Homo sapiens: one gene and its partners. The protein of the gene in region 1 interacts with the protein of each later gene in a biochemical or structural test. Each region holds a gene or a part of one and is shown in the gene's direction. Other genes may lie near its edges. The genes, in order: THRB, RANBP9, ANP32A and C1D.

What was found.
Region 2: the proteins of THRB (region 1) and RANBP9 form a complex in vitro, tested with the Homo sapiens proteins (one study listed by BioGRID).
Region 3: the proteins of THRB (region 1) and ANP32A form a complex in vitro, tested with the Homo sapiens proteins (one study listed by BioGRID).
Region 4: the proteins of THRB (region 1) and C1D form a complex in vitro, tested with the Homo sapiens proteins (one study listed by BioGRID).

What each region holds. Positions count from the first base shown.
Region 1 is NC_000003.12:24,491,845-24,499,103, reverse strand, and holds the start of THRB (thyroid hormone receptor beta), read left to right. Parts: upstream 1-4,253; 5' UTR 4,254-4,452; intron 4,453-4,612; exon of another isoform or gene 4,613-5,017; intron 5,018-7,259.
Region 2 is NC_000006.12:13,708,820-13,716,615, reverse strand, and holds the start of RANBP9 (ran-binding protein 9), read left to right. Parts: upstream 1-4,780; 5' UTR 4,781-5,110; coding exon 5,111-5,681; intron 5,682-7,796. UniProt on the Homo sapiens protein: May act as scaffolding protein, and as adapter protein to couple membrane receptors to intracellular signaling pathways. Acts as a mediator of cell spreading and actin cytoskeleton rearrangement.
Region 3 is NC_000015.10:68,817,876-68,825,611, reverse strand, and holds the start of ANP32A (acidic leucine-rich nuclear phosphoprotein 32 family member A), read left to right. Parts: upstream 1-4,716; 5' UTR 4,717-4,860; coding exon 4,861-4,914; intron 4,915-7,736. UniProt on the Homo sapiens protein: Multifunctional protein that is involved in the regulation of many processes including tumor suppression, apoptosis, cell cycle progression or transcription. Promotes apoptosis by favouring the activation of caspase-9/CASP9 and allowing apoptosome formation.
Region 4 is NC_000002.12:68,059,985-68,067,193, reverse strand, and holds the start of C1D (nuclear nucleic acid-binding protein C1D), read left to right. Parts: upstream 1-4,189; 5' UTR 4,190-4,236; exon of another isoform or gene 4,237-4,249; intron 4,250-7,209. UniProt on the Homo sapiens protein: Plays a role in the recruitment of the RNA exosome complex to pre-rRNA to mediate the 3'-5' end processing of the 5.8S rRNA; this function may include MPHOSPH6.

The sequences.
Region 1 (7,259 bases):
CTCCTTGCTATAACCAGCCATGCCAGCATGTCTACTGCATCTCCAACATGCCCTATGCTTCTACCACAATAAAGGATCAAGTTTTTTCCCCATGGCCAGCTTCATGGGCATGTGATCTGGACAGCTGCATACAACCCATGCTGGGAAGGGCTTGGTGCTTGAGGCCTGGCACTTCATTTAATGCTCTGTTGTCACCGTAATGAAATTCCTAATAATTTTATCTTTGAACTTTTGTTTTGTAAATGAAGGCTGATGGGACAATGGAGCATGTGCATGAACAGAGGAAATACAGATAACATGCATAGCTGCTGCCATTCTTTACTTGTTCCACTCACACATAGCATTCTTGTTGCCCCATAAGCACAGAATCCCTGTGGGCACACAATGTGTGGGAGTTCTGCAAAACTCAAATTGAGTATGAGGTAAGCATGTCACATCAATGACTAAGTGAGGACACTGACAACCCCAAAATGGGGTTTGCCACGCTTTCCATTCCAACCAAAGCCTGATTTGAATGCAAAAAGAAGGTAACAACCAAGGAAACTTTCTCTGTCTTTTCTTATGTTAATACTTCTCTGTAACCACTTAGTTTGAAAATGATGACATAGAAGGAAAGAGAAAGATAAGGCAACCTATAGTTCCTTTTCCTTTCTGGTCTCCTTTATTCAAAAGTAAGCCAAAGGCAGAGTGTTGGTAAAAACGGGCATATATCAAGATATGAAATAAAAAAGTTAGTTTTGTGCTGTGAATTAGAGTGTACTTGAATTAGATAATTTTGACCCTGTCATCTTCCCCAAGAAGCTGTCTTTCCTGAAGGGTTGGAGTTCTTACCCAGCTGCTATGGACCAGAATCACTGGAGCCCTCATAGAAAAAATAAGTTCCAAGAACTAACAATGAACAGACAGAAGCAGAATCTCCAGGGCTAGGTCAGGTGGCTGCACAGCCAGCTTGAGAAGTAGCTGAATAAGCAAAACAATACCAGGGGTTCCAGTCCCAATACTCCCTGGCAAAATGTGGTCCATCTTTGATGGATTGGTTCAAGTGCCACCATTTTCCATGAAATCTTCCCTGATTTTTCCCTCCCCTCACGCCCACGTCTCTAACTCCCTGACCCCAAATCCTTCACTATATATTAATTATCTTTGACATCTAGGACATTCTAACTTGAACTTTGCTTCTCTGAAAAGACTCTGGTAACACTGAGGGCATAGCAGGGCAGGGACTAGGTTTAGGCAAGTGAGGCACTCATCCCTGGTGTGAAATTTAAGGGGATGCCAAAAAAGAAAAAAAAAAAAGCCTCAGTAAATCAGGAGAAATATTTTAATGCACTATTTTAAAAATCAAAATTAATGCAACAATTATTCATGATGAACAATACATCAAAATTTTAAATAAAGGCAGGCTCAGACCCTGCACTTGTATCACTGGCCTCACTCACTTCTGCCCAATCCGAGCCCTATGAGGTTCTGTTTCATTCATTTTCTTACACCAGTAGTTGCTAAATAAATAAATATATGAATGAATTGCTTTCTTGAACTGAGTCATCAGCTTAAAGGTATAGATCCTGGTAATGAGGATGTCTATGGTGAAATATGGGAATGGGTCCTGGAAACAGCCTTGGTGTGCCCTCTCAAGTCAGCTGGAACACATGACCACATAATCTAAAGTTTGAATAAATGTTCTTCCTTCAATCAAGTCATCATGACATTCTCCTCCATTGTCCTACCTTGTGTAAAACCAGAAAAATAAATGACATGATCTCTTGGTAACCCTTCTTTACCATCATCATGCAGCCTGTAGGACAGCCCTCAGAGGTCCTGTTCAAAATGGAACCCTAGTAGTTCACGTTATCATTAACATTGCAGTAAAACTGCCCTCCCCCATTGTTGTAGAACATTGTTACTACCACAGTCTCATGGATTGTTTGAATAATGCCACGCCCTTTATTTATTTCATGCTTTAATTGGCTCATTTCTGAATTTTCTGGGCAAAATGAGATCAGAAAGACAAAGCCCTTGAACAAAGAGAAGCAACAGTTTTTGTTACATTTCATTTTGTCCTCTGTATGTCTCCTTCTTAAATAATTTAGCTCCAAGTTATACTCAGGAAGAGAAAAAAATTAAAAGTTCCAGTAGGCCGAGAAGCCCATGATCCACCGTGTTGAAGGAAGATTTGCTTCACCTCACCACCCCCCAACCCCCTCCCGCCCCCCCGCGGTAATACTAAGCTGTTCACACGCTGTGAAGAAGACCCGAAGACTAGGTTGTCAACTGTTGGGGCCTACCTGCGCCAGACTTCTTCCTCAGTGGCCAGCTTTCTCACCCCCCGTTAGCCACCAGGGGGCCGCCTGCTTGGAACAAGTGGTGTAGACGCCACAGCTTTTCTCCAAACCAACCAAAACATTCCGGGGCAGCTTTGGAGCAAAGCCCAGGAACTTCCCTGCAAAGGAGAACAGCTCTCCAACTACAGAAGCCTGCAAGTCCTATGGTGCAGACTTATTAAGAGTAGAGAAGAAAGCACGGACTTCTCACCGAGGACCAAAGGGAAATGGGGTCTCTGGGGCCTGCAACTTTCTTAAAAGTGCATCAGTGAAACCCTGCTTATCCAGCGGGGTGGTTGTTAATGCTGTCAGCAGGGGTGGGGGGCCTCTCACCCCTTTCCCTGGGACGCTCAGAAGAAGCGAGAATAAAACATACATGTCACTGGCTGGAAATCTAGAGAACCTTCCAATAAATAACCTATACATTGTCAGGCAGCTGAGGATCCATATCGTCATAACTCTATTATACTGCGTGTTACACGAATAGATGTGAATATTAAATTATGATGTCGGAATTATTTTAATACTGTCTATAAGAAATTAATTGTACTCTGTTGTCAAAGTAGTTTTGTTGCAACTATAGTTCCTTATTGACTACCTTTTAGCTGAGTGAGGACTCGGTATTTCCCAAGTATCCTTCTAGCTCAGAAAGCAAGTCTCTTCCTGGTCTCCAGGACTTAAGGTCGGGGGCATTTGAGAGACCTATATTTGCCCGGGAAAGATCTCTTGAAGAGTATACATTATTTTTGTCTTCCTGGTTTTATCTATACATTTCCAGGGCAAAGACAAATTAATAGGGCGGCCGTTCTGGGACCTGAGGAGTGTCTCAGCCCTGTACGCGCCTCTCCCACGATATGCATAATGGCGGTGGGGGCGGGGGTGTCCTCCTTAAGGGCAACCCAGGCACGTCCCAAACTTCCATTCGTGGGGTGGCCGTGGTGGTTAAGAGAGCTGCCAGATGGTCGGACCAGCGGAGGCCCCAAGAAGAGCCAGAGCGCCCTGTATTCCCGACACGCGCCACAAGTGGTTTAGGAGCGGAGGGAGGAGCGCTGCGGCACGGGTCGGGCCGGTCGGGCCGGGCAAAGAAGGCCGAGACGTGCTCCTGGAAGACTCGCCCTCCGGTCCCGGTGTCACTCGTTCCCCATTCTTTCCTCTTCTCCAACTAGAGTAATGACGCCCAAACCCGCACCTATGCGCGCAGGCAATCGGGTGGGTGGACGCGCGGCCACCAAACCCACAGCACCGTCACCAACCCTGGGAGGGCACGGCCGGGATTAGGAGGAGGGGGAGCGCCCACACCTGGGGAGGCAGGTGCGGAGGCGGCCGGCCCGGGGACCTCGAGTGCGTAGGACTCGGGGTCGGGGTCGGGGTCGGCAAGCCGGGCGCTGTGAGCGCGTCGGAGCGCTGGCCCGGAGCCTGGCAGGGGGCGTCTGTACCGGCTGGGCAGCCCGGGGCGGTGGCGATGGCTGGCGGCGGCGGCGGGGTGTGCGCCAGGAGGCCATTTCCTCGCTGCGCCCCTGGCGGAGCCGGGTTTGCCTGCTCTTGGCCGCCGCCGCCACCGCCGCGCAAGTCGGACAGCCGTGAGGGCTGGAGGGGAAACCAGGTCACCGGTTCGCAGACGCGGCGCGGAGCAGGCGCCCCGGGCCCGGAGTAAGACAGCGCCCGGGAAGCGGGCCGGGGCGGGCCGGGCACGCGGGGGACCCGGAGAGGCGGGGACTCTGGTGCCCCAGCCGCAGTAGCTTCCTACGCCTATAAAAGTGGAGAGACCGGGGAGGTGCGGCGCGGCCCTGGCTGCGGCCGCCTCTCTTCGCCCAAGGAGTTGACATTTTGCAGGACTCGCGCGACGCCCAGTCGCCGGCGCTCCCCGGGACCCCGCCGCCGGGAGGAGGGGGCGGAGGAGGGTGGAGACTGCGGGGCTTGGCCAAGGAAGGCGCACATCCTCGGGCGGGCGGCCGTGACGCGGCGGGGATTAACTTTGCATGAATAATGTGAGTGCGCTTGGAAAAGAGACCTCCTGCTCCGCGGGCTCGGGGCAAGAGCCCGCAGGCTACCTTCCCCGGGCAGGGGCGCTCAACCCAACCGGCTCCAGGGCACTGGTAATTTGGCTAGAGGACCGCGCGGAGGCAGCGGGGTGAGAGGAGGAGGGGGCGACAGTTCCAACTGTCCACAGGGTGGGCGGGATGGTGACGGAGCGTCGCAAGAACCCGGAGGGGTGCGGGCGGCTAAGCCGAGCGCGCGCGGGCGGGCAGGCGGGTGAGCGTGGGTGGTGGGGGTGTCATCAGCCTGATTACCTGCCTCCGCGGGGCTTCTGCGCCCCGGATCTGGGAGGAGGTGCCCTCTCGTGTTCGGGCACCGCGCGGCGGCAGGCTGGGAGCTACGGAGTGGACAGTGGTGGAACAGGGTGGCCGGGCTCTGTTCCAATCGCAGCGGCTCTGTTCCTCAAACCCCAAGCCCAGCTGTTGACATGTTCCTTGTGAAATGGAGTTTGGCATCCTCAGCGCCGAACCCAGTGGAAGTTTCCATGATGAGGAAGTTGTGTGACATGGGGGTTCGGAAAAGGTTGGCAGGCCAGGGGGGAGGGTTAAAGGGACTGTGGGTCTCCCATCCCCCCTTTTTCGCCTGCCCCGGAACTCCCGGGCTTGGAAAGGAGAATTATCCTGGATGTTGGCGTGCGCCGTGGCCGGTGCCTGGCGACTGGGCTTCTCTCCGCCTCCTGGGGGCTTGGCGGGGATTTCGCTAGCCTCCTGGGTCGCGCTCCTTCGCTTTGCTTCTCTTGGCGCAGCATCTTCCTCTGGGTCTCCTCGAGTTGGTTGTGATACCAATTGTGCCAACTGTGTGACCTCCACCCCCTCGGAGAAGGACTCATTTGGGGGAATTTTCATTCTTAGTGGATTTTGCCCTTCTTAGCGGCAGTTGTCACTTTGGGGGAGGATTTCCCAATGACCATTGTGGGATTATTATTAGTGTTAATTCTTAAGCCTTCTTATTTATTTTAAGGAGGGGGAGGGAGAAAATGAGATGAATTTTTTTTAAATGTACAAGTTTCCCCAAATGGAAAATTTTAAAAGAAGGATCTAGAAACATAACAATTCATAAAGTGAGTCAAAGAAAGGAAAGAGTTTGCATGAACAGCCAAGTTCAGATTCTCCATTCTCCTTTGTCCACATAAATTTAGAATTTTTGAAGATTCAAACACTGTGTAATCAGTAAATATATTTGAAATACCTTCTTCCTCAGCACATTATTGGTCTTGGGTACTAGTGAGATTCAGTTTTAAAGACCTGTGTGGAAGTTCAAGAAATTAAGCATTCCTTGCACAGTGTATTAATATCAAGCACAGCAGTTTATATAATGATAAATGTATTAGGTAATGTAGACCTGTTGGGCAATCTTCACATTATTTGGCTTTAGTTTAGTATGCTTATTTAAATTGTAAGAATGTATAGCATGCAATGCACTGCAAAGAAATAAAAATTGCATTTTAACGTGTTCATGATTCATTCTGAATATTCAGTGACTGACCTGCTCCCCAATTCACTTCTGCTTAATTCTTTCTAATTCCGAAATCAGTCAGAGGCTAGGAAACAATGAAAAACGTGTTTCAGTGCAAAGTATTTTAAGCAGTTGATGTTTTTAGGATGTTTTCATGCCAGGTGGCTAAGTGTTTTAATTGAGTCAAACAGAAATCCAGTACCAAGTGATTTGTTTGGAGTGTTTTATACAAAGACATTGGTGAACGATCATTTATAATTTGAGCATGTTAAAGAAATACTAACAGAATCTATTTTTACCTGATCTCAGAGGTTTATTATATATTGGAAGTGAGACCATCTGCTAGTAAATACAGTTTGGCTTTATTTTATAGCCAGTGAAAAATAAATAATACTGAGTATAGCTACAGAACTGGTTTTTTAAAGTGAAATAATTCCTGTTGGCATTACAATGCAAAGGTATACTTTTATTGACATTGGAATATTGTTACATAAAGCAACTGACATTATGTAGAGGAATGAATATTCCATGTATCTCCTTTCAGTTTCTTTGTAGTAAATTCTGCCATAATTAGAGATGAATTAAGACAACTTTTTAATCCATTATCTTTGGGAAAGGTGATTTCTTAAAATCGCCTTAAAAGCAGAGAAAGCTGTGGATTCCTTTCCTCTCCTGGGGTTTTTGCAGTTGTTTAAAGCATGAGTTGTGTGGAGCCACAAATGGTATTGCATGTTTCTTTTTTTAGTAAGCCCATCTTTTTGATGGAAATCAGAGTAAAGGTGATTGGTTTCTTCGCCCTGGTCTTCTCATTCTAGTGTAAGATTACGTGTCACCTTCTTAGAAAGCCCTTCCCTGACCACTTGAGCAAAGGCGGTCCCTCATTCCTTTTCAGACCCATCACACTGGTTTTTCTCTTTGTTTGTTTGTTTTGTTCTTCTTTTTCTTTCCTTTATTGTATTTGCAATCTGAATTGTTCATTTCAATTGATGCTTGTTGATCGCCTGTATCCTTGCCTAGAATATCGAATCCATGAGCACAGGACTCTTGACTGCCTCACTCACTCTTATTTTCCAGCATCTAGAACAATACTTGGCACACAGTAGGTGCTGGATAACTCTTTGGTGAATAAATTAATGATTGTGTCCAAATATTATGTTCTCAAAAATACCTGACTACACATCCTAAGTGGGTGCCAGTTGGGCATGCCAAGATCTATTCTGTGTGTGCATGTGTATGTGTGTGTTGCACACATTCCATGCTTATATGGTTCACTCTTTATTTTTCTCTCTCTCTCTTTCTTTTCGAAATAAAAGCTGGTCTTCCATTCTGTGTAGTGACAATGCAAAGAGCTATTTCTGCGAGTTCCTCCTAAGGGCATTTGCCTTGAATACATGGAAATCCTCAGCAGCAGAATTTTTCTGACATGTTACCTTGATCCCTGGAAGA
Region 2 (7,796 bases), on another chromosome or scaffold:
GAGTGAGCGAGGGCTCCCAACATGCTGTCATCTCTCAAAACCGTATCACTTTCCAACTAGACTGTTCACCGAAGAAGTAGATTCCATACTGCTGTTTTTCTTTGTAATCTGTCTTGCCTCTTTTCTTCATTCCCTGCCTAGAGAAGACAGGACCCAGGGTTCCAACATAACAGGTGCTTCATAAATGCTGACTGAGAACTTTCCCAAACTTGGACCCTTTATTGCTATAGTTTACTAACATTGTTCAGCCATTTGTCATCCATTTGAATTTGCCACACTACGTGCAGAAATATGCTTACTCCATTCGTGTGGCATCAGGCTGCCTCGGACACTGGAGTGCAGCACGCATTGTGGGTAATAAAATGAATTTGTTGACTCCTAGGATTTCATTGCTAGTGACTTGGCTTTCATTTTTAGTGTTGAGAATGGTTTATAAGGAACGTTGATGTAATAGTCTGGAACAGGAATCACAAACTGAAGCCTGTAGGGCAAATCCAGGCTGCTCCCTATGTTTGTAAATAAAGTTTTGCGGGATCACAGCCATGCCCGTTTGTTTATGTATCATCTATGGTTACTTTCATTTACAATGGCAAAATTGAGTAGTTGCGACAGGTAACTATGTTCCGCAGAGCCTAAAATATTCACTATCTAACCTGTTACAGAAAAAGTTTGCTGATCCCTGGTCTAGAATCCATATTTGATGTGAATGTGGCAAGTGCAGTTCCCCAGGGTCACTGGAAGTTACAAGGACCCTGTATGAGTCAGTTTCCAAAGACGGCCTTCAATGATCCTCACCTTCTTGTGTTCATAGCCTTGTGTAATCCCCTCCCCTTGAATATGGGATGAAACTGATGACTCACTTCTAACAAACATATGGCAAAAGTGATGGGATGTCACTTCCGTGGTTGGGTTACAAAACACTGTAACTTTTGTCTTGCCACGATTGCCTTGGCTTGCATGCTTTCATGAAGCAAGCTGCCATGTTGAAGGTGCCCATGTGGCAAGGCATCATGGGCCACTTCTGGCCAATAGCCAACAAGAAACTGAATCCCTTAGTCCAGCAGCCCTCAAGGAACTGCATCAATGAGTGTGATAACCACATCAGTGAGTGTGAAAGTGGATTCTTCCCCAGTCAAGTCTTGAGATGACTGCAACCCCAACTGACACCTTTAATGCTCATGAGAGACCCTGAAGCAGAGGATCCAGTGAAGTTGTGCCAGATTCCTGACCCACAGAAAATGTGTGATAATAAACGTTATTTTAAGCCACTAAATTTGAGGATTATTTATTCTGCAGCCATAGATAACTAATCCAGACCCTAAAACCATACTATAGATCTTGGCACACATTGCCATAACATTTTCCAGTACTCAGAAGGATACTGTCATGGGCATTGACTGAAACAGGCTGGTCAGCATCTTACCTCTTTCCTAGTATCTTTCCTAGTATGGAAAATCCTCTACTGTGGGCACCAGTGGCCCTTTTCCACTAGGGCAATGTGTCCTAAACATTTTCATGTTATGCCATGCACAGAAAATAAGATGTGTATGGTACTCTGAATGCACAAGACTGCTCACTGTTGGAAGGGACCAGTTCTGGTGGCTGTAACCACTCAAGGCCCACCCTGAGCTGAAGTTATCAATAACGTAGCATCTCTGTAACCCAGTCACTGGATAACCTGGGAATCTCTGCTTGCTGGTGTATTCTGGCATGGGCACACAATCTAGGCTTGGTGACTTTGAAACTTGAGTGAGTGGTGTAAAGGCTGGAGGTCAGAGAGATAAGAGTCCAGGTGTTGAAGGTGACATCTGGCAGTGATTTCTGTGATCAGTGCTGGGGTCCAGGCCAGTCTATTTATGCAGCCTCTCCTCCTTTGGCCATTGTCAGTTTTCAGGCCTGCTTGTCCAGCCTTCTGGTCAATTCTGAGAACCATCTAATATCTTTCCAGTAAGTTCCTTTTTTGCTTAAGAGAGCCAGAATTGGTTCCTATTGTTCGATACTGAGAAACCCAGCAGATACAGATACTGGGTAATATTAGAGCAATACATGGTAAAGACTGAAAACATAGGTTCAAGAAGGGTGTGGATATGTTCATGGCTAATGGATTTTTACTATTTACATATCTATGTACAATTCTATTATTTTCATAATAAAAGTACATTACTTTTAATAATGCATTATAATTGTCCATTATGGAAACATTTTACAATTTTTCCTTCATGTCTTTTTGGTAATGATTTTGGCAGTGCTATAATTATCGTATTGCCTCTTTTCATTTAGCATATCATAATCATTTTTCTATGTCTTCAATAACATATTTTTAAGAGGCCATAAAATATTTGTTTCAGGCTGTGCCTGTGCAAGAAGCCTGGAGAGAGTGGGTCTGAAGGTGGGCCCAGGATCCACTAAGTCAAGAGGAAGGGGTGCCTTTTTCTAATTGGTTGACCTCTTTTGGCACTTCCACTGCCCAGAAGGGATACCTTAAAAAAAAATGGCACGAATGTGCTATATGTGCTCCTGTAGCATAACTCCACTGAGTGGGGTATGTGATTAGAATTTCACATGTGACTAGAATTTCTTCTAGTCTCTTCCGGTTGGGCATTTGATTTGCTTCTATATTTAATCTACCATTAATACTTCTTGTGGAACATTTTTCAGCCTAAAGTATTTTCATATTTAGATTGTGTTGTTTGGCTTTTTGATAGATAAGTCAAAAGGTATGAACTCCTTTATGTCTCCTTATAAATATAACCAAGTATGTAGCTTTCCAAAAGGACGTTATCAATGTTCTCTATCTCCTTCTATATGAGAAAGTACTCATTTCACAGCATCCTCCCCCACAACTGAAATCATTAATTTCTTGATGGAGAACCACCAGTCCCCCTTATAAAATGCTTCCAACAAAATGTTAGACAATTCTATTCCTTCAGCTGTTCCTAAGATACGGAAAGTTCTAGATAGTTCCTAAGTGTGCTGACAGAAAAAAAGTACATCTTCAAAAGTGTTTCAAGAAAGTTTAATGACGTCTGGAGCCCATTTATTCTAACATGGCTATCGTACATTTAAATAGAGCTTGGCTTACATTGAACTCATTGTTACTGTAATATAAATGAAAGTGTTAGAACACTGTAAATACAGTGACATCATGTGATTCAAAGTGCAGTGGTTTAAAAAAAGTCATCAAACAACAGGTTAAAATTAATGGATATTTCTATCAAACTACAACAGAGGCCAGGCATGGTGGCTCACGCCTGTAATCCCAGCACTTTGGGAGGCTGAGGCGGGTAGATCACTTGAGGTCGGGAGTTCGAGACCAGCCTGGCCAACATGGTGAAACCCCGTCTCCACTACAAGTACAAAAATTAGCTGGGTGTGAGCACATGCCTGTAGTCCCAGCTACTTGGGAGGCTGAGGCAGGAGAATCGCTTGAACCCGGGAGGCGGAAGTTGTAGTGAGCTGAGACCACACAACTGCACTCCAGCCTGGGCGACAAAACAATAATAATAATAATAATAAAAGTACAACAGAACATCTAGTTGTCTGGGTAACTGAGGGAGAAATTAGGCCGAATGACTCTGTTATTTGTTCTGGCCAGATAATCTTGGCCTTAAATTAAATCACCTTTGGCCTACCTTCTTCAAAACGAAATAATTTTCTCTTCGGCAAAACATTTCTTATTTGACCAAATGATTACCATCATATCTTTGGAAGCAAACAAAATATCAGAATTTACATCACACAATTTACATATGCAAAGCCTGATTTTGCCAGCTAGGGAGGGATAAGCTAAACAAAGGGAAGTGGTGAAAACAAAGTAGTAATGTTATGATGGGTCAGAGAGCAACACTTGGCAAGTTGTGCCAAATTAGTCGACGAAGCATTCTATTGGGAATTGCAAAGTAGGAAGTCCTATTTTTGACTCTGCTGATCTCGGTAAATATTTCCTTGTTTTAAAAATGGGCATAATTTTCTGTTACCTAAGAACCCTGTTATGAAAATTAACGAGTCTATAAAATGTTCTGACGTCTCTAGAAGCCCTTCCTAAACACACACTATAATCTTGTATTCATACAGTGCCTGCTCCTGCTTTTTGAAGATATGCCGGTCTTTATTAATGACATCTTCTACCACTGTTAAGTTCACTGTGAGTCCTCGTAAAATTAATTAATGAAACAGTCACTATTCTAAGTGGGAGACTGCCTTCAGAAGTGGTTTCTACTGCCCATATGGTCAATGCTACGGAATTAAACACTGAAGTACCAAAGGCAATGCGTTCCTCTTTGGAGGGAGGCGGCAAACGGGAACGGGACTGAGGCGAGAGCTAGCAGCACTGCGCGGGGAGCCTGAGCCGCTCCGCACGCCCCGGGCCGACGGGTCCTAGAGCGCCCCGGGGCCTGGGCTCGCGGCGGCCCCAGCGGGGCTCGATTACTCTCGCCTGGACGAGAAGCGGCGCCTCGGCTCCGAGGAGCCCTACGGTGGGGAGGTGGGGCGACGACAACAAAAAGAAGTCAAGTGGGAGGGGATTCGCCGGCGAGGGGGGCGACGGCGGCCGCCAAGGGAGAGGAGGCGGACACCTCCGAAGGGACCTGCGGCGCCGGGAGCCCAGCGATCCTGCCCACGAGCGACTGGCGGGCCCGGGAGGACGCCTCGCGGCGCACAGCCGGGAGCCCCGCGGCCCGCCCCCTCGCACCGCTCGCGCCTCTCTCGCGCCTCCGTCCCGCCCCCTCGCCTAGCGCCGCCCGCGCGCAGCGTCTCGCGCCGGCCCGGCCCGCCCGCCGGGAAACAGCCGCGAGAGCAGCGGCCGCGGCGGCCGCCAGCGCGCCTTCCCCTCCCGCGCTCCCGCGTCGCCCCCGCCCTCGGCGCCTCGTCCCCGGGCCGCGCGCCCGCGCTCCGGCCAACGTTCTCTCCCGGCCTCCCGGGCCCGCCGCCTACTCCCGCGTCTCCGAGCTCCTCAACCGCCGCGGTCTCCCTGGGCGCGCGGCCCGCCGCCTGCTTCCGGGGCGGGCGGACTGGGCGCCTGGTGCCGGCGGCCGCAGCGACAGCGCCCCCGGGAAGCAGAGGAGGAAGGAGAGAAGAGGTGGAGGTGGCCGCAGGCTGAGTCGCGGCCGGGATGTCCGGGCAGCCGCCGCCGCCGCCGCCGCAGCAGCAGCAACAGCAGCAGCAGCTGTCGCCGCCACCGCCGGCGGCCTTGGCCCCAGTCTCCGGAGTCGTCCTGCCGGCGCCCCCGGCCGTCAGCGCCGGCTCTTCTCCGGCCGGCTCGCCCGGCGGCGGTGCGGGCGGCGAAGGCTTAGGGGCCGCGGCGGCCGCCCTGCTCCTCCACCCTCCGCCGCCGCCGCCCCCGGCCACCGCGGCCCCGCCGCCCCCGCCGCCGCCCCCGCCTCCCCCTGCCTCAGCGGCTGCCCCCGCCAGCGGGCCGCCCGCTCCCCCGGGCCTTGCAGCGGGCCCCGGCCCGGCTGGAGGAGCCCCGACCCCAGCTCTGGTGGCGGGCAGCAGCGCCGCGGCCCCCTTCCCTCACGGGGACTCGGCCCTGAACGAGCAGGAGAAGGAGTTGCAGCGGCGGCTGAAGCGTCTCTACCCGGCCGTGGACGAACAAGAGACGCCGCTGCCTCGGTCCTGGAGCCCGAAGGACAAGTTCAGCTACATCGGCCTCTCTCAGAACAACCTGCGGGTGCACTACAAAGGTACTGGGCGTGTGTCCTGCGGTGGGAGTGGGGCACTGACCCGACGTGGCCGGCCGCCGCTGCGCCGCTCTCGACCCGCCCCCGACCCCCGCCCTCGCGGGCTCTGCCCTCGGAGGCCACTCGCCGCCTGTTGTGCTGCTCCGGGTGGGCGCGGGGGTCGCGGTGAAGGGTCCGAGGGTGAGGGGCGAGATTCTTGGAAAAGGAAGGTGAGTAGAATGCCCCAGGGTAGAAAGGAGCTGGTAATCCTAGACCAGGAGCAGGACACCTTGAGGGAATCCGGGATGACAGGACAGAACTGGCTTTCTGATTTCCCTGGGAGATAAATCTTGGGGCTTGGGTAGAGGAATCCATGGACTCGGAGTTGGGTTACATTGTTCTCCAGGTGGTGGGTCAGGCGTTCTCCTCTTACAAGGGGGGAAGAGAGGCACGATTCTGAGGTATGATTTCTAATTAAGAGAGAGCAGGGATACACAGGGGGAGGAGTAATCAAAATTAGGCCAGAGATTGTCTAGGGGGACAAAAGGACAAGGGGCCCAAGTTTGCCATCAATATATTTTAGTAAAAGCAACCGGGAGGGTAAGAGAAGGGAACCCCAGGAACACCCTTTTTCTTAGGGGAGCAGAAACCTACCCCTCCCGATTGGAAGTGCCCTATACAGGTCCTTAGGTGTTGATATCACATGAAGTCTTGTTGAAAACGAAGATGGAACAAAATGCAGCTTAGTATTTTGAAGAAAATTGGCTTATGTTTTGCACTTGCAGTTAAAAACAACAACCTTAGGCTTGTGCTTGCCCCTTTCCTCCCTCACCTACCTCTCCTAGGTTAAAACAAAGCTGGAAGCAAATCAGTTGTATATAAAATTATGAATTGCTATGGGAACTATTGAAATGTAGCCCAATTTAATAGCATGTATCAAGTTTACTTGTGTGGAAGAAAAAAAAATCAACCTAACGTATCAGTCTTGTCTGGAAACAAATCCAGGGTTTTAGGCCCCAAACCTAAAGCAGAAGCTTTTACATTCACGGCAGCCTCACTTTGATTGGCTGTAAAGGGGTCTACTCAGATCCTAGTGACATGTATGTAGAGGAGATAAACAACCTTGTGGTTAAATTCTTAACTTATACGGGACTGAAATTTGAGAAGAAGCTTGATAAGTAAGTTACTATTTAATCAGAAAGGCGAATGGCAATAGAAATCTACCAAATGATTTGGCTGCAAAGAATCACGCACAAAAATAGGCCTTGTTGAACATTCTTTTTATTCTCGCCATACATCCAAAGAAGTACTTCCAAGTGTTATCCTCCTTAATCTAAACGTCTGAACGTTTCATTCACAATATCAAATCTTTGTTTTTTCTCAAGTTAGGACCTTTTGTTAATTTCCTTGTGAAGTATTTCTACTTTTATGTTTTAATTTGTGTGAACGGTGCTATGTTATGAGGTGTTTACTTCTGATCTGGCTGCCAGAAAGCTATTGTTAGATGTGACAGAATTTTATAATTTTAAATTTATGGTTGACAGTAAATAATTTGCTCATAAAGTCAGAGCCAGTGTAGATGAACAAAGAATTCTAGATTTCCTGAGTTCTGCAGTTGTTTGTGGTTGTAGATATTTTACAAGACTGAGCCTCAGTTTCTTCCTCTGAGTGGTGTGTAAGTTGAGCTGGACGATTGGTAAGGAAATTTCCAGCTCTGAATTTCCGTGATGTCTAAGATTCGTGATTACTGTTTATTTAGTACTGTAAGGTGTCTTGATTAGTTTTAGTCTTTTACATAAAATTGATGATTAGGTCAGAGAAAAATACACGTTTATATGAAATTAGTTGGAGTTTGGAATATTTCTGACACTGCTGTCTCAGTTGTTTTTATTCTTGGCCTCTTTATTACTTTCTGTTGTGTAATACTAAGGTTCACTTTCTGGGAACATAACTGTTTTATAAACATAAATCATTATTTCTGGAAGAACAGATTTTGTTGTTATCCTTTTATTTTTCCTCTCTTCTATCTTTCCTTTGTCTCTCTCTTACCCCTTGTCAGAAAGTCTTTTTCCCTTTCTACTGCCTCTTCCTCTTGTCTTGTTACTGTAGACTGTGTGTGTGTGTGTGTGTGTGTGTGTG
Region 3 (7,736 bases), on another chromosome or scaffold:
AGTGCAATGGTGCGATTTTGGCACATGGCAACCTCTGCCTCCCGGGTTCAAGTAAGTCTCCCGCCTCTGCCTCCCGAGTAGCTGGGATTATAGGCACGTGCCACGAAGCCCGGCTTTTTTTTTTTTTTTTTTTTTTTGTATTTTTAGTAGAGATGGCATTTCACCATGTTGGCCAGGCTGGTCTCGAACTCCTGACTTCAGGTGATCCACCCGCCTTGGCCTCCCAAAGTGCTGGGATTACAGGCGTGAGCCACCATACCTGGCTTTTTTTTTTTTTTTTTTTTGAGACGGAGTCTCGTTCTGTCGCCCAGGCTGGAGTGCAATGGAGTGATCTCTGCTCACTGCAAGCTCCGCCTTCCGGGTTCACGCCATTCTCCTGCCTCAGCCTCCCGAGTAGCTGGGACTACAGGCGTGCGCCACCTCACCCGGCTAATTTTTTGTATTTTTAATAGAGACGGGGTTTCACCGTGTTAGCCAGGATGGTCTCCATCTCCTGACCACGTGATCCGCCCACCTCGGCCTCCCAAAGTGCTGGGATTACAGGCATGAGCCACCGCGCCCGGCCTTTTTTTTTTTTTTTTTAATGAGACAGTATCTGGCTATGTTGCCCAGGCTGGAGTGCCGAGGCGTGATCTCTACTCACTGCAATCTCCACCTCCCGGGCTCAAGGGATCCTCCCACCTCAGCCTCTATTGTAGCTGGGACCACAGGTGCACGCCACCATGCCAGGCTAATTTTTTTTTTTTTTTTTCATTTTTGGTAAAGATGGGGTTTCACCATGTTGCCCAGGCTGGTCTCGAACTCCTGAGCTCAAGCTATCTGCCTGCAGCTTCCCAAAGTGTTGGGATTACAGGCGTGAGCCACTGCACCTGAGCCTTTTTTTCCTTTTTAAAAGAAACCAACCATCTTTAAGCGGTTTTTAAGATTTTTACTGTTTTTTGTTTTTAGAGAAACAGGTCTTGCTATGTTGTCCGAGCTGTTCTTGAACTCTTGGGCTCAAGTGATCCTTTCACTTCAGCCTCCCAAGTAGCTGGGCCTACAGGGGAACATCACCATGCCTGGCTTATTAATTTCACTTTAAAAGTCACATATATGACAGTTTTCATCCAACAGGGCTTTTTCTCCCTGACCAATCCATTAATAAGGTAACTATCCAATCATTAAAAAAAAATTCTTTTTCTAAATTATCCAATACTTTATTAAGCAAAATAAAATAATATTTAACTTTTTAGATCCCAGGCTTCAACATTATTTGCTATTCAATGAAAATAAATAAAATGTAGTGGTTTTCACATTTGTTACCACAGATTTCAAAATAATAATCTACATTCCTAAAAACTATTTACATATACAAACAAAAAAGAACATAATTAAGCTGGAGTTTTTCCATGTCATTGTCTTTGGGGTCCAAGCAGCAGAACCATGATGTAGGTAAGAGAGTACTACGGCCGATTGCCAGTGATGTGATTCAAGCTCAAGAACAAAAAGTTGAGCTGTGGGTATATTAGCTTGACTCATAAAAAGGATGCTAACCAAAGGGTCTCCATCTTTAGAGACCAAACAAGGGCAAATGTGCTATTGGTGCAAAAGTAATTGTGGTTTTGCCTTTTTTAAAAAAAATGGTAATTACTTTTGCACCAACCTAATAAAATGGCAATAGTAACGATATGGTTATTTGTAAAACAGTACTCTCCTACACATTTCAAAAGAGCCTAAGGACACTCATTGTTCATGTCTTTGAGAACAAAATAGGCTGCTCATTTATTTGGAATGGTTCTTGATGGAGGATATTCTGGAAGGCGGGAAGATCTTTCCTTCCTGGGCCATCTATCTCTCTAGGGGGTTAAACTTTGAATTGTATCTCATTTATTCTTCTCAGTGTGACTCAAACCTAGTTTCAGAGGTTAGAGACTCTACATCTTTCAAACACAATTCCTGTTGTAGAATTACTCAGTAGATAGGAACTCTTACCTGTTCCCAACTCCGTTTCAAAATTCAGCCAAGATTCCTTGATATGGGATTTCTTTCTATATTTTCTGAAATGCAGTGCCACTTAGAACACTTATTTACTATTATAATATACAATAAAATGTAATTTAAAAAACAACTTTGTAAAATAAGATATTTGTAAGAGCAGTGGTTTTTTTTATATTTGGTCATGTTGTGTGGGGCAAATACAGCTCAGCTTTGGCTTTACTATATTCCTTTTTTAATAATAAAAAAGCAAAATCATATGAAAATTTTCTTACATATAGATCTATTTGTAAAAGCAAAAGAAAATTTATTTCAAGTGTGTAAGGAAAGCGGAAATTACTCAATTGGTTATACATATACTTTTGGATATTTCAATTTCTGTAACGACTGACATCCAGTGAAGCCTTCTTTCAATTTTCTAACATTAATACAAAAGTCATCAAAATGTATAAATGTAAGATGCTTCTAAAAACAACTGTCACATTTAACGTTTTGATTTAGTAATCAGGCCATGATTTTTTCGATTCTAATTTGTTTCTGTACTTTCTCTTTAATGGGGGAGGGGGTGGGCTTCTAAGTCTTCCTCTTGAGTCTTTGTACAATAAAGTGAGCTATTTGCTTCTATTTAGCAAAGCTGGATGGGGCATATCTCTGCATTTGATTGGTTGGTTTTTAAGGGATTACTCCTCTGGAAAGACACTGTCTCATATTGCATTGCTAGCAGCGTGGTCTTAACTGTGGTTAAACTTTTAAATTGAAAATGAACATTTACCATCAAAGAGAACACAAACTTCAGGACTCCTATGTTACACAGATCATACACACCATATTGACCTGTTTTGATAAGAGTTCTGTTTGAATACAATCCTAAACACCATATCCAGAAATAACAACTGTCTCAATGGCATAAATAGGAAATTTGGGGTTCCTCATGTATTACAAAGAAGCCAATAAAACTTAGAATAAATTCCAACTATACAAATAGGCTTCAATAAGATTAACAAAATCTGAGGATGACAGGCAAGTCAACAAGTTAAATAAATTATACTATTTATACCCAGATAAAATAAAACAATGACTTCTAACTTTTATGGTGCATTTCCCACCTAATCAGAGTAAACATCAGACTTCAAATTCCATTTATCATTTTATCTGAAAGAATTTACTGAGTAAAATCCTTAGTTGCAGGGCTTTACACTTGCAATCCATCAGGTTGCAATATTAAAGTTACTACAGCTTCTTCCCCAGTGTAAGCATTCTGTATGTGTTTTATTTACATTGTCACTTTTTATTTCCTCCTCAACTTCGTATGTCTAAGAATGAAACTGGATTGCTATTATGCAACAGTATTTTAACTTTGCAACATACATACTGGCTTATCTCTCCTTTGAACTCCTGTTCCTGAAAAATAAACATATGTATCCAGAAAAACTACCTTGAGGCGTGTGGGGAAGAGTGCAGACATGTAGAAACAAACACTAAAATACAGTCGTGTGGAAAGGTAAGGATGTATCTGTCCTCGTTGACAACAATCCCCGTGGTTTATTAACAGCCACAGGCAGCCAACTTAGTGCCGTAAGTCGGTAACCCAGTGGGCATCGGGGCTTTAAGGTCTCTTAAAACTTAATGTGATTCAAAAATACCCAAGGCAACCACGCCGAAAAACCAGGAGAAAGGGCTCCAGTTAGAGCCTCCTTGGCAACCCAAACCGAACCGAATGACTCAGGTGGACGATTAGAATAAACCGTGCGCCGTTCTCTTTCACTAGGTCTATAAAGCCCAGAAATTATGTTTGGTCCAGAAAACCAGGAGTTATGAGCACCTTCCTTTTCCACCTTTTAATATTCTACATATCTAGCAACGGTTCTTAATCCATGGTCTTCATTCATTTATTGCCTAAACAAGATCTTGGGTGTCTCTTGGTGATCACTTCTTCCAAGCTGACCTAATATGACAGCAAAGTGAAAAGCCTCTTCGTGGGAAGGGTCGCGACCGCGCGGTAAGTCATCCAAAAGTGGAAGCATCTTGCTTTTACTGACTTATGTATACGAGGGTGGCGATGGTGGCGGCCTGACAGGGACGAGGCCGGAGGGGAAGGGGCGCGCGGGCTGCTGGGCAGCCGCGGTGGGGGTGACGGGGGCAGCCACGCTCCCCAGCGCGAGCCGCCGGACCCGGGACCCGACGAGCCCCTCCCGGCATTGCACCCTGACCCCTCTCCTCCTTCCAGGCCTTTCATCTGCCCTCCCGCTGGGCAGCCCGCGGTCCCCGGACCTCAAGCCGCCCGCCTCCTTCCGCAACCCCGTCGCGCCGCCCCGCGAAGCCCTCGGCCGGGCGGGGACCCCGACCCGACCCCTCCGGCCGCGCCCCTCCCCCTCGCAGAACGCACCTGCGGCCCCGCCCCCGGCCGAACGCTGAGGCGGCGGCTGGCTGGCAAGGCCGGGCGGCTCGGCCCTCGAGGCACAGTCACCTTCCCTTCCCCCGCCATTCCGCCCACCCCCCTCACTCAGCCACAGAGCAGCCGCCGCGCTCCTCAGCCGCCCCGAAATCTAAAGGGGTCCGTCTCCGGCACCACTACCAAATGGCCGAGCCTCCCTGGCCGGCTGCGCAGCCCGCCCATTGGTCCCTTCCCCCCCCCGCCGCCACTGCCATTGGCTGTTGCCCGGAGACCCTCGGCGGCGATTGGCTCGGGCCGCTGCCGCTCGTCCATGGGGCCGCAGATCCCGCCTCCACGGCGATCAGGTTAGTGTGCGCCGCGGGTGCTGGGGGCTCGAGAACCGAGCGGAGCTGGTTGAGCCTTCAAAGTCCTAAAACGCGCGGCCGTGGGTTCGGGGTTTATTGATTGAATTCCGCCGGCGCGGGAGCCTCTGCAGAGAGAGAGCGCGAGAGATGGAGATGGGCAGACGGATTCATTTAGAGCTGCGGAACAGGACGCCCTCTGATGTGAGCATTTGCCAAAAATATCTCTGTCGGTCCATTCTCCTACTTTGTGTGTGTGTGTGTGTGTGCGCGCTGGGGGGAGGCACTTTTTTTGGGGGGGGGCGCCCGGGAGGTGCGGGTTTGGGGGTCGGACTGCAAGCGAATTGGCAAGGCTGGGGGGTTGCAATGCCATCCGAGCATGTTCCGGCTGCCGCCGCCGCTGCCCTTGGTGTGTGACTACCTGTGCGTGTGCTCCCGCGTGTGCGAGTGTGGGTGCGAGAGTGTGCGTGCGAGTGTGCACCCATCGGGGGCCGGCGGGCGCACGCGTTTGGGTCGGAGAGAATGAGGCGAAATCACCCTCGGAGATCGCTGCTCCCGTGACTCCGTCTGGGGGGAAGATTAACGAGGGAGGAGGAGGAGAGGGGCTGCCTCCTGGATTTAACAACAAAAAAAGGGGGTTTTACATTTTATAAATGTATCCCCCCTTCCGCCCCCCTCCCGCGCCTCCCCCCTCCCTTTCTCTCGCTCGCTCGCTCGCACACACAATAAGTTTGGGGCTTCGCGAGTCCGGTTTAGTTTCTGATAAATGTGGGCCGAGGCCCCCGGGGAGAGCGCGTGGGGAGGGGGCTGCAGCGGAGTTGGGAATGGCTGGAGTTTAAAGTGCGTCTTCATTTCTTTGCAGTGATGAGGCGAGAGACGGGGGAGCCATATTTGTAACTTTGTAGTGTTCGTGAACGCGCCCTTTCTCTCCCTCCCTCCCTTTCTCTGCCTCCCTTCCTCTCCTCCTCTTTCTCCCTCACTCTTTCCACCCCACCTTCGGGCCAGATGCTGATGTTTCTTCCTTTCCTTCCGAAGGGAGGATAAATTAGAAGGAGGGGGAGGGATTTTCGAACGTGCTAAGGCACAGATAATCCCCGCGTCTCCCTGCCTCCAGCGATCGCTGGTGCAAGTTGCCCAAAGGCTACGTCCCGGTGCCCCCTCGCCCCAGCTCCTTCCGGCTTCCCCAAGATGCCAGCCTTTGGGCCCTGGTGCCCCCCAGCTCGAACCCCCGGCCCGTCTTTCTCAGTGCTGGGCTTGTCGGCAGCCATTCGGCGCCTGCTTAATAAATGGGCACGGGAAACTTTGTCAGGACGCGAGCTGCCCGGAGCTGGCGCCCGTGGTGGGTACTGGCTGGGTCCACGTTTATGCGGGCATGGCAAACACGCAGCTCTAGGATGGGAGTTTGCCCGCTAGCCGCCGTTATTGATTGGGCAGCGGCGGGAGCACGGCCGGAGGAAACTTACACGGGTGGGAATCGCGAGGCTCGAGCGAAAGCTTACCCCTGAGGAGGGGGAAGGTGAGGGTGGGTGACTCGAACGCTGGTTTTTATTTCTGCCTCCCTCTCGCTTTCAAACCTGAGTGTTTTCGGCGAGTTGGCGGCTCTGGGGCGGAGACCCTGGCCAGCTCCCCTCTTGGCCCCTTGGGGGGACCGGGGACGCGCTGGCGGGAGGACGCCCCCAGTCTCGGTGGCCCGAGCTCCATGGAGTTGGGAGTTTGGGCAGCACCGTGCGCTGGCCTGTCGCCCCTCTAGCCCGTTAAACCCGAATCCCGGCGAAGGCAGGCCTCGCTTCCTCTTTTCCCTAGTTCCTCCCCCAAACCTGAGTGAGACTTTTGAAAACAAGATCCTTTTTGTCTACCCCCTCCCCGCCTTAACGCAGCTGTGGACTGGAGACGTGCGAGTGCCTTATGGCGCGCAGGGCGGGGAGGGGGCGGCCGCGGGAGAGGAGGGGGCGCCGCCGGTGGAGGCCGGAGTTTCCGCGCACTATTTGCGGGCGGTTTGCCTCTCTCCGGCCGCTTTCGTCCCGGCCGGGACCCGGCGCCTAGCGTTTGGGGGCTGGGTGTGGTGATGGGGGAGGGGGCCGGGGCCGCGGTCTTCCCGCGTACTTTCCGGAAGCCCCCTGCGCGGAGGGGGAAGGGCGCCAAGCGCGGGGCCGGGGTCGCCGCGGGTGGGTGCGGGGGCGCGGCTGGCCTGGCGAACCCGACCGACGCTGCCGGCCCCCCGGGAGCAAGCAGGAAAGCGGGTCGAACCGGCTCTTTAAACTTCCACGAGTGTGTGTGTGTGTTGGGGAGGGGAGCGCACCGCGCCGTACTGGGAGCGATTTCTCACGCTTCGCCCCCTCGCCTCCCAGCCTCGCGGCCCACACGCCTGCCCCCTGCCTGGAGGCGGGGTGGGGCGCGGGTGGCGGAGGAGGGGGCACTTTCTGCACATTTGCGGGGGAGGGGGAGAAAGCTAGCGAAAGAGGGACAAAAGGGTTGGGGGAGGAGGAACTGTATTTTTTTAAACGTTCTTAAGACAAATGGCTCCCGGAGCGCGCCCCCTGCGCCCCTCCCCGCCGCGCTGCCCCTGGGCCCCCCACACACCCACCTTCGGCACCTCTCCCAACTGGGCTCCGGGAGCTGGTGGCCATGCCGCGACGCCGAAATAGGACGAGCAGCCATGTTTCCCGGGGCTCGCGCCGCACGCCCCGCCCCTCCTCCCCGGCGCGGGGCGCAGGGCTCGGAATGCGGGCTCCGGGCTCCATGTGGCGCGGGGCGCTGGCAGGCGGGCGGCGGGGGTGCAGTACGCGCGGGGCCGGCCTTGTGGCTTTCTAGGCTGGTTTTGAGTTCCAGGTGTTTTATTTATTTATTTTTATTTATTTATTTTTTTTAACGGCTAGGCCCACTCGGGGCTGAGCCCGAAGGGCGCCGAGGCGTTACTGGGGGGCAGGAGCCGCCTCCAGGGCCCTGCGCGCCTGTGGCACGACTGCCGGGCGCCGGGCTGCCATTTTGTCACCGTGGCTGTTGTCGCTGTGGGGGGCGGGGGGAGC
Region 4 (7,209 bases), on another chromosome or scaffold:
CTTCTTCCTGGTTTAGTCTTGGGAGGGTGTATGTGTCGAGGAATTTATCCATTTCTTCTAGATTTTCTAGTTTATTTGTGTAGAGGTGTTTATAGTATTCTCTGATGGTAGTTTGTATTTCTGTGGGATCGGTGGTGATATCCCCTTTATCATTTTTTACTGTGTCTATTTGATTATTCTCTCTTCTTTATTAGTCTTGCTAGTGGCCTATCAATTTGGTTGATCTTTTCAAAAACCAGCTCCTGGATTCATTGATTTTTTGAAGGGCTTTTTGTTTCTCTATCTCCTTCAGTTCTGCTCTGATCTTAGTTATTTCTTGCCTTCTGCTAGCTTTTGAATGTGTTTGCTCTTGCTTCTCTAGTTCTTTTAATTGTGATGTTAGGGTGTCAATTTTAGATCTTTCCTGCTTTCTCTTGTGGGCATTTAGTGCTATAAATTTCCCTCTACACACTGCTTTAAATGTGTCCCAGAGATTCTGGTATGTTGTGTCTTTGTTCTCATTGGTTTCAAACAACATCTTTATTTCTGCCTTCATTTTGTTATGTACCCAGTAGTCATTCAGGAGCAGGTTGTTCTGTTTCCATGTAGTTAAGCGGTTTTGAGTGAGTCTCTTAATCCTGAGTTCTAGTTTGATTGCACTGTGGCCTGAGAGACAGTTTGTTATAATTTCTGTTCTTTTACATTTGCTGAGGAGTACTTTACTTCTAAATATGTGGTCAATTTTGGAATAAGTGTGATGTGGTGCTGAGAAGAATGTATATTCTGTTAATTTGGGGTGGAGATTTCTGTAGATGTCTACTAGGTCTGCTTGGTGCAGAGCTGAGTTCAATTCCTGGATATCCTTGTTAACTTTCTGTCTCGTTGATCTGTCTAATATTGACAGTGGGGTGTTAAAGTCTCCCATTATTATTGTGTGGGAGTCTAAGTCTCTTTATAGGTCTCTAAGGGCTTGCTTTATGAATCTGGGTGCTCCTGTATTGGGTGCATGTATAGGTAGTATAGTTAGCTCTTCCTATTGAATTGATCCATTTACCATTATGTAATGGCCTTCTTTGTCTCTTTTGATCTTTGTTGGTTTAAAGTCTGGTTTATCAGAGATTAGGATTGCAACTCCTGCTTTTTTTTGTTTTCCATTTGCTTGGTAGATCGTCCTCCAGCCCTTTATTTTAGCCTATGTGTGTCTCTGAATGTGAGTTGGGTCTCCTGAATACAGCACACTGATGGGTCTTGACTCTTTATCCAATCTGCCAGTCTATGTCTTTTAATTGGAGCATTTAGCCCATTTACATTTCAGGTTAATATTGTTATGTGTGAATTTGATCCTGTCATTATGATGTTAGCTGGTTATTTCGCTCATTAGTTGATGCAGTTTCTTCCTAGCATTGATGGCCTTTACAATTGGCATGTTTTTGCAGTGGCTGGTACCAGTTGTTCCTTTCCATCTTTAGTGCTTCCTTCAGGAGTTCTTGTAAGGCAGGCCTGGTGGTGACAAAATCTCTCAGTATATTTGTCTGTAAAGGATTTTATTTCTCCTTCACTTATGAAGCTTAGTTTGGCTGGATATGATATTCTGGGTTGAAAATTCTTTTCTTTAAGAATGTTGAATATTGGCCCCCACTCTCTTCTGGCTTGTAGAGTTTCTGCCGAGAGATCAGCTGTTACTATGATGGGCTTCCCTTTGTGGGTAACCTGACCTTTCTGGCTGCCCTTAACATTTTTTCCTTCATTTCAACTTTGGTGAATCTGACAATTATGTGTCTTGGAGTTGCTCTTCTCGACGAGTATCTTTGTGGTGTTCTCTGTATTTCCTGAATTTGCATGTTGGCCAGCTTCACTAGGTTGGGGAAGTTCTCCTGGATGATATCCTGAAGAGTGTTTTCCAACTTGGTTCCATTCTCCCAGTCACTTTCAGGTACACAATTCAGATGCAGATTTGGTCTTTTCACAAAGTCTCATATTTCTTGGAGGCTTTGTTCATTTCTTTTTACTCTTTTTTCTCTAAACTTCTCTTCTTGCTTCATTTCATTCATTTGATCTTCAATCACTGATACTCTTTCTTCCACTTGATCAAATCGGCTACTGAAGCTTGTGCATGCGTCACGTTCTTCTCGTGCCACGATTTTCAGTTCCATCAGTCATTTAAGGACTTCTCTACACTGTTTATTCTAGTTAGCCATTCGTCTAATCTTTTTTCAAGGTTTTTAGCTTCTTTGCAATGGGTTCAAACATCCTCCTTTAGCTCGGAGAAGTTTGTTATTACCAGTCGTCTGAAGCTTTCTTCTCTCAATTTGTCAAAGTCATTCTCTGTCCAGGTTTGTTCCATTGCTGGTGAGGAGCTGCATTCCTTTGGAGGAGAAGAGGCGCTCTGATTTTTAGAATTTTCGGCTTTTCTGCTCTGATTTATCCCCATCTTTGTGGTTTTATCTACCTTTGGTCTTTGATGATGGTGACGTACAGATGGGTTTTTGGTGTGGATGTCTTTTCTTTTTGTTAGTTTTCCTTCTAACAGTCAGGACCCTCAGCTGCAGGTCTGTTGGAGTTTGCTGAAGGTCCACTCTAGACCCTGTTTGCCTGGGTGTCACCATCGGAGGCTGCAGAACAGCAAATATTGCAGAATGGCAAATATTGCTGCCTGATCCTTCCTCTGGAAGCTTCATCTCAGAGGGGCACCCAGCTGTATGAGGTGTCAGTTGGCCCCTGCTGGGAGGTGTCTCCCAGTTAGGCTACTCGGGGGTCAGGGACCCACTTGAGGAGACAGTCTGTCCGTTCTCAGATCTCAAACTCCGTGCTGGGAGAAGCACTACTCTCTTCAAAGCTGTCAGACGGACATTTAAGTCTGCAGAACTTTCTGCTGCCTTTTGTTCAGCTATGCCTTGCCCCCAGAGGTGGGGTCTACAGAGGCAGGCAGGCCTCCTTGAGCTGCGATGGGCTCCACCCAGTTCAAGCTTCCTGGCCACTTTGTTTATCTACTTAAGCCTCAGCAATGGCAGACGCCCCTCCCCCAGCCTCGCTGCTGCCTTGCAGTTTGATCTCAGACTGCTGTGGTAGCAGTGAGCCAGGCTCCGTGGGCGTGGGACCCTCTGAGCCAGTCACGGGATATAATCTTCTGGTGTGCCGTTTGCTAAGACCGTTGGAAAAGCACAGTATTAGGATGGGAGTGTCCCAATTTTCCAGGTACCGTCTATCATGGCTTCCCTTTGCTAAGAAAGGGAATTCCCTGATCCCTTGTGCTTCCCGGGTGAGGTCATGCCTCGCCCTGCTCTGTGGGCTGCACCCAGTGTCTGAGAAGCCCCAGTGAGATGAACCCGGTACCTCAGTTGGAAATGCAGAAATCACCCATCTTCTGCGTTGCTCATGCTGGGAGCTGTAGACTGGAGCTGTTCCTATTCGGCCACTTTGGAACCTCCCCCAAAACTTTAAATATTACATACATGGTGCTTGTTCAAAATGCTTTTACATGCATTTAATATACGGACAACTGTTTCATGCATAACTTTTTATCAAATTACAGCCGTGGAATGACAAGTTACAAATGTTAAGACAATGCTCAATCGCTTATACTACACTTTCAATGAACAGTATGTACAGTTTCTGTTAATGCCTTTATTTTCTATTATGTTTGTTCTGATTGCATACATTGAAATGCAATTTTACATTTATTTGAAACTAATAAAAAATTTGGGCTTGTATTTTGCACATATTTTCCCCATTTTTCTACTAATTCATTTTTACTGTATTTTATAGAAGTACCTTTTACTGACAGATTGGAAAAATAAAGAACCCATTCTTCCCCACGGATAATCTAATAAAGAACCTGTTCTTCCCCACGGATAATCTGGGAAGCTGCTCTAAGAGGCTCATCTAGAGGCAGACAATAAAAGGGTAGAAAGAATGAGGGCCCTGAAAAAAGCTTCTGGGAAAGTAAAAACCCGAACAAAGTTTCGATAACTAAGATTTTTTTCCTGGTTAAATACACTCAACCTGTATTTGGGGTGAGTGTTAGCCGGGTACAAAGGTAGACAAAAGTTCCGAGTGCCGCCGCAATCGTCTCCCACAACATGGGTCTGAGCTACTCAAAATGAGATTTGCCTTTGGAGAAGAGTTAAGGAGCAGGGGGCGTGGCGAGCAGCGTGAGATCATCGGGAAGCGCCGCTCGTGGCGGGGGCAGAGCCGGCGCGTCATTGTCGTCATCGTTGCCCGACCGCTTTCCGGGAGACTGGAGTCGAAGGCCGTGAGGTATTTTTCTAAGGTGTAGTTTCAGTTTTTCTCCTGCTCCTGTTTAACTCCGCTTTTCCTCTCCTGGGATTCCCCTGTCATCCTCTGGGCAGACTGAGAAAATCGGAGTTTGGCTGCGTAGCCTTCCAGGAATGCAGTCTCTCACAGCTCTTCGTTGGGGCAGCATTGTTGGCAGGTCCCCCACTTCCGCTTGTTTTGGGGCTGCTTGCAGGCTTTGGCTTACCCCGGCCCCTCATTTCTCTCTTTTGCTCCGGTCTCTCTCTTTTTCTTCGTTTGTTAACCACCCCCTTCTCAAATCTTGGAAGACGAAGAAATTAAAAACAAAAATCAAAAAACATTGAAGTCTTCACAATTTTCAGCTGTTTTCAATCTTGCTTAGGGAGAGAGGCTAAAGTGGAACGTCTAGGGGAGTAACTTTACTGTGTTAGCTCCGTTTATCATTCACATTCACAGACTGCCTGCTGCTGCAGTATTAGCTCATCTGAGATAGTGGGCTAATTTCGACCTTTAGCTGAAATCTGTAGTGGGTAATCCAAGAGAGCAGTTTTTCTTGATGACCCGGATAAGTTCAGTGTAACTCAAACTTGTTTCAAAATAGCTTTAATGTCCTCAATGTTTGCTGACTACAGTTCAGTTTTGGCTTGATAAAGATGTATTTGTCGCAATGAGATGTTTGCTATCCACTTATTAACCTATTAGGACTGTCTGATGGTGGACTGAACCAAGACTTAACCGTGATTTTTTAAAAAATTAAATTTAAAAATTTTGTGGGTACATAGGTGTATATATTTATGGGGTACACGAGATGTTTTGATACAGGCATGCAATATGTAAGAATCACATGGAAAATGGGGTATCCATCCCTTCAGGCACTTATCCTTTGTGTTACAAACAATCCAGTTATACTTTTAGTTATTTAACTCTGTATTTTTGATTCAAAAACAACAGATTAGCCCTATTGAAGTACAGAGAAATGTTTGTGTTTGGTGGAAATGATAGAACTCATTGTTTTGTTGAAAGATAGTGACAAGTGTGAATAACGGTTTTTCAAAATAAAATTCTCAGTCAAAAGATACTACAGCTGCCTTCAGTTAGCTGTGTTGTATGTATCACAGTTCAAAAGTAATGTAATTTTTTTCTTAACTGCTTTTACCTTTTCAAATGGCTCTTCATATGTATTATCTCAGCTACTGTTTCCAAAGTTGACCCTTCAAGCATGGCTCTAAATAGTTCACATTGGATTAGAGTATTTGGTAATTTTCACTTTTAGTAAAATACTATCTAATGTATTGAGTGCTAACTGAGCCAGGCCCCGTTCTAATGGCTTTTATCTAGTTTATTTAATCTGTGCAACAACACTATATACTCTTATTTCAGAAATAAGATAATTGTAATAATCAACTTCCATATGTTTTGGAAGGTAATTTTGCTGCTTGATTGCTGTAATTTTGGAAATGCTTTGAATTAAACTTTGAATAGAAGTGAATTTAATTTAATGTAATTGTTCATCTCAATCTTGAGCAATATCCTCGTAATTTATATACTCTCCTATTAGACTTTGGGATAAATTTATTTTTAGATGTTAATATATTTTTTAGAAAAGGAAGAAGTCTATATTTACTCAGGAATTGTACTGTGGGACTGAAGGAGAGTTACAGACAACACTAACATGGAGTCACTGTTTGCCCAAGACAGCAATATTTATTGAGAACTTGTGTGTACATTTCATTGTTATTTTCTCCTAAGATAATGCAGTGCGAAAAAGTCATTACAGTAATTCATTACAGTAATAGAATTCTGGTGCAACAACAGCAAATGGCTCTCAAATTCCAAAAAACAATCATGTTGGATTTGTTCTTTGGCTTAGTTCATAACTGTGTATAATTATTTGGTGTAGAGATGGGAAGAGCCCTGGAATGTACATTATCGTATGTTTGTTTGGATCCATGTGGTGACTTTCTAGTATCTGTAAGCTCAAACTGTAATCTGATATTAAGAGTTTCCAAAATTACGTCTTAGGTTACTTTGATTGGTTTTAGTTAGTAAACAAATAGTTGCTAACTAACTAATACATGACAAGACATTATGTTAGTGATGTGGAGTTCAAAATGTGCCTCGACATGAATCTTCCCTTGAGCAATAGCCCAGTGAGTAAATAACCAATGGAAAGGTAGGAGGAGAGGAGTGACATGATCTGACTTAGGTTTGTTTTATTTTATTTTATTTTACTTTATTGTCTTTTGTTTTCTTTTGTTTCCTTTCCTGCCCTGCTCTGCCCTTGCCCGCCCTGCCCCACCCCATCTCGCCCCTCTTTTCTTTTGGAGTCTCACTCTGTTGCTCAGGCTGGAGTGCAGTGGCACAATCTCGGCTCACTGCAACCTCCGCCTCCTGGGTTCCAACGATTCTCCTGCCTCAGCCTCCGGAGTAGCTGGGATTACAGGCACCCGTCGCCATGCCCAGCTAATTTTTTGTGTTTTTAGTAGAGTTAGGGTTTCACCATGTTGGCCAGGCTGGTCTCGAACCCCTGACCTCAGGTGATCCGCCTGTCTCAGCCTTCTAAAGTGCTGGGATTACAGGCGTCAGTCACTGCGCCCAGCCTGACTCACGTTTTAATAGAATCTTCTCTGGCTGCTGTGTTTAAGAATAGTTTGCTGTGGGGTGGGGTAGGTGAAAACCAGGAGACTAATCACGGAGGTGTTGTAGTTCAGATGAGATGATAACATCTTAACTGGCTGGAAAGAAGTGAAGGTGGAGAAGCAGTTTAATTTTAGATGTATTTTCTAGGAAAAGCAAACAGAATTGCTTACAGATTGAAAGTGAATTGTAAGAATAAGGTTATTGTCAAAGTTTGGGGCTTGAGCAACTAGAAGAAGGGAATTGCCATTAACTGAGAAGTAGAAAACTGTGGGAGGGGCAGGTTTGTGGGAAGATTCGGAGTTCAGTTAAGGACATGATAAGTTTTTGATGTCTGTT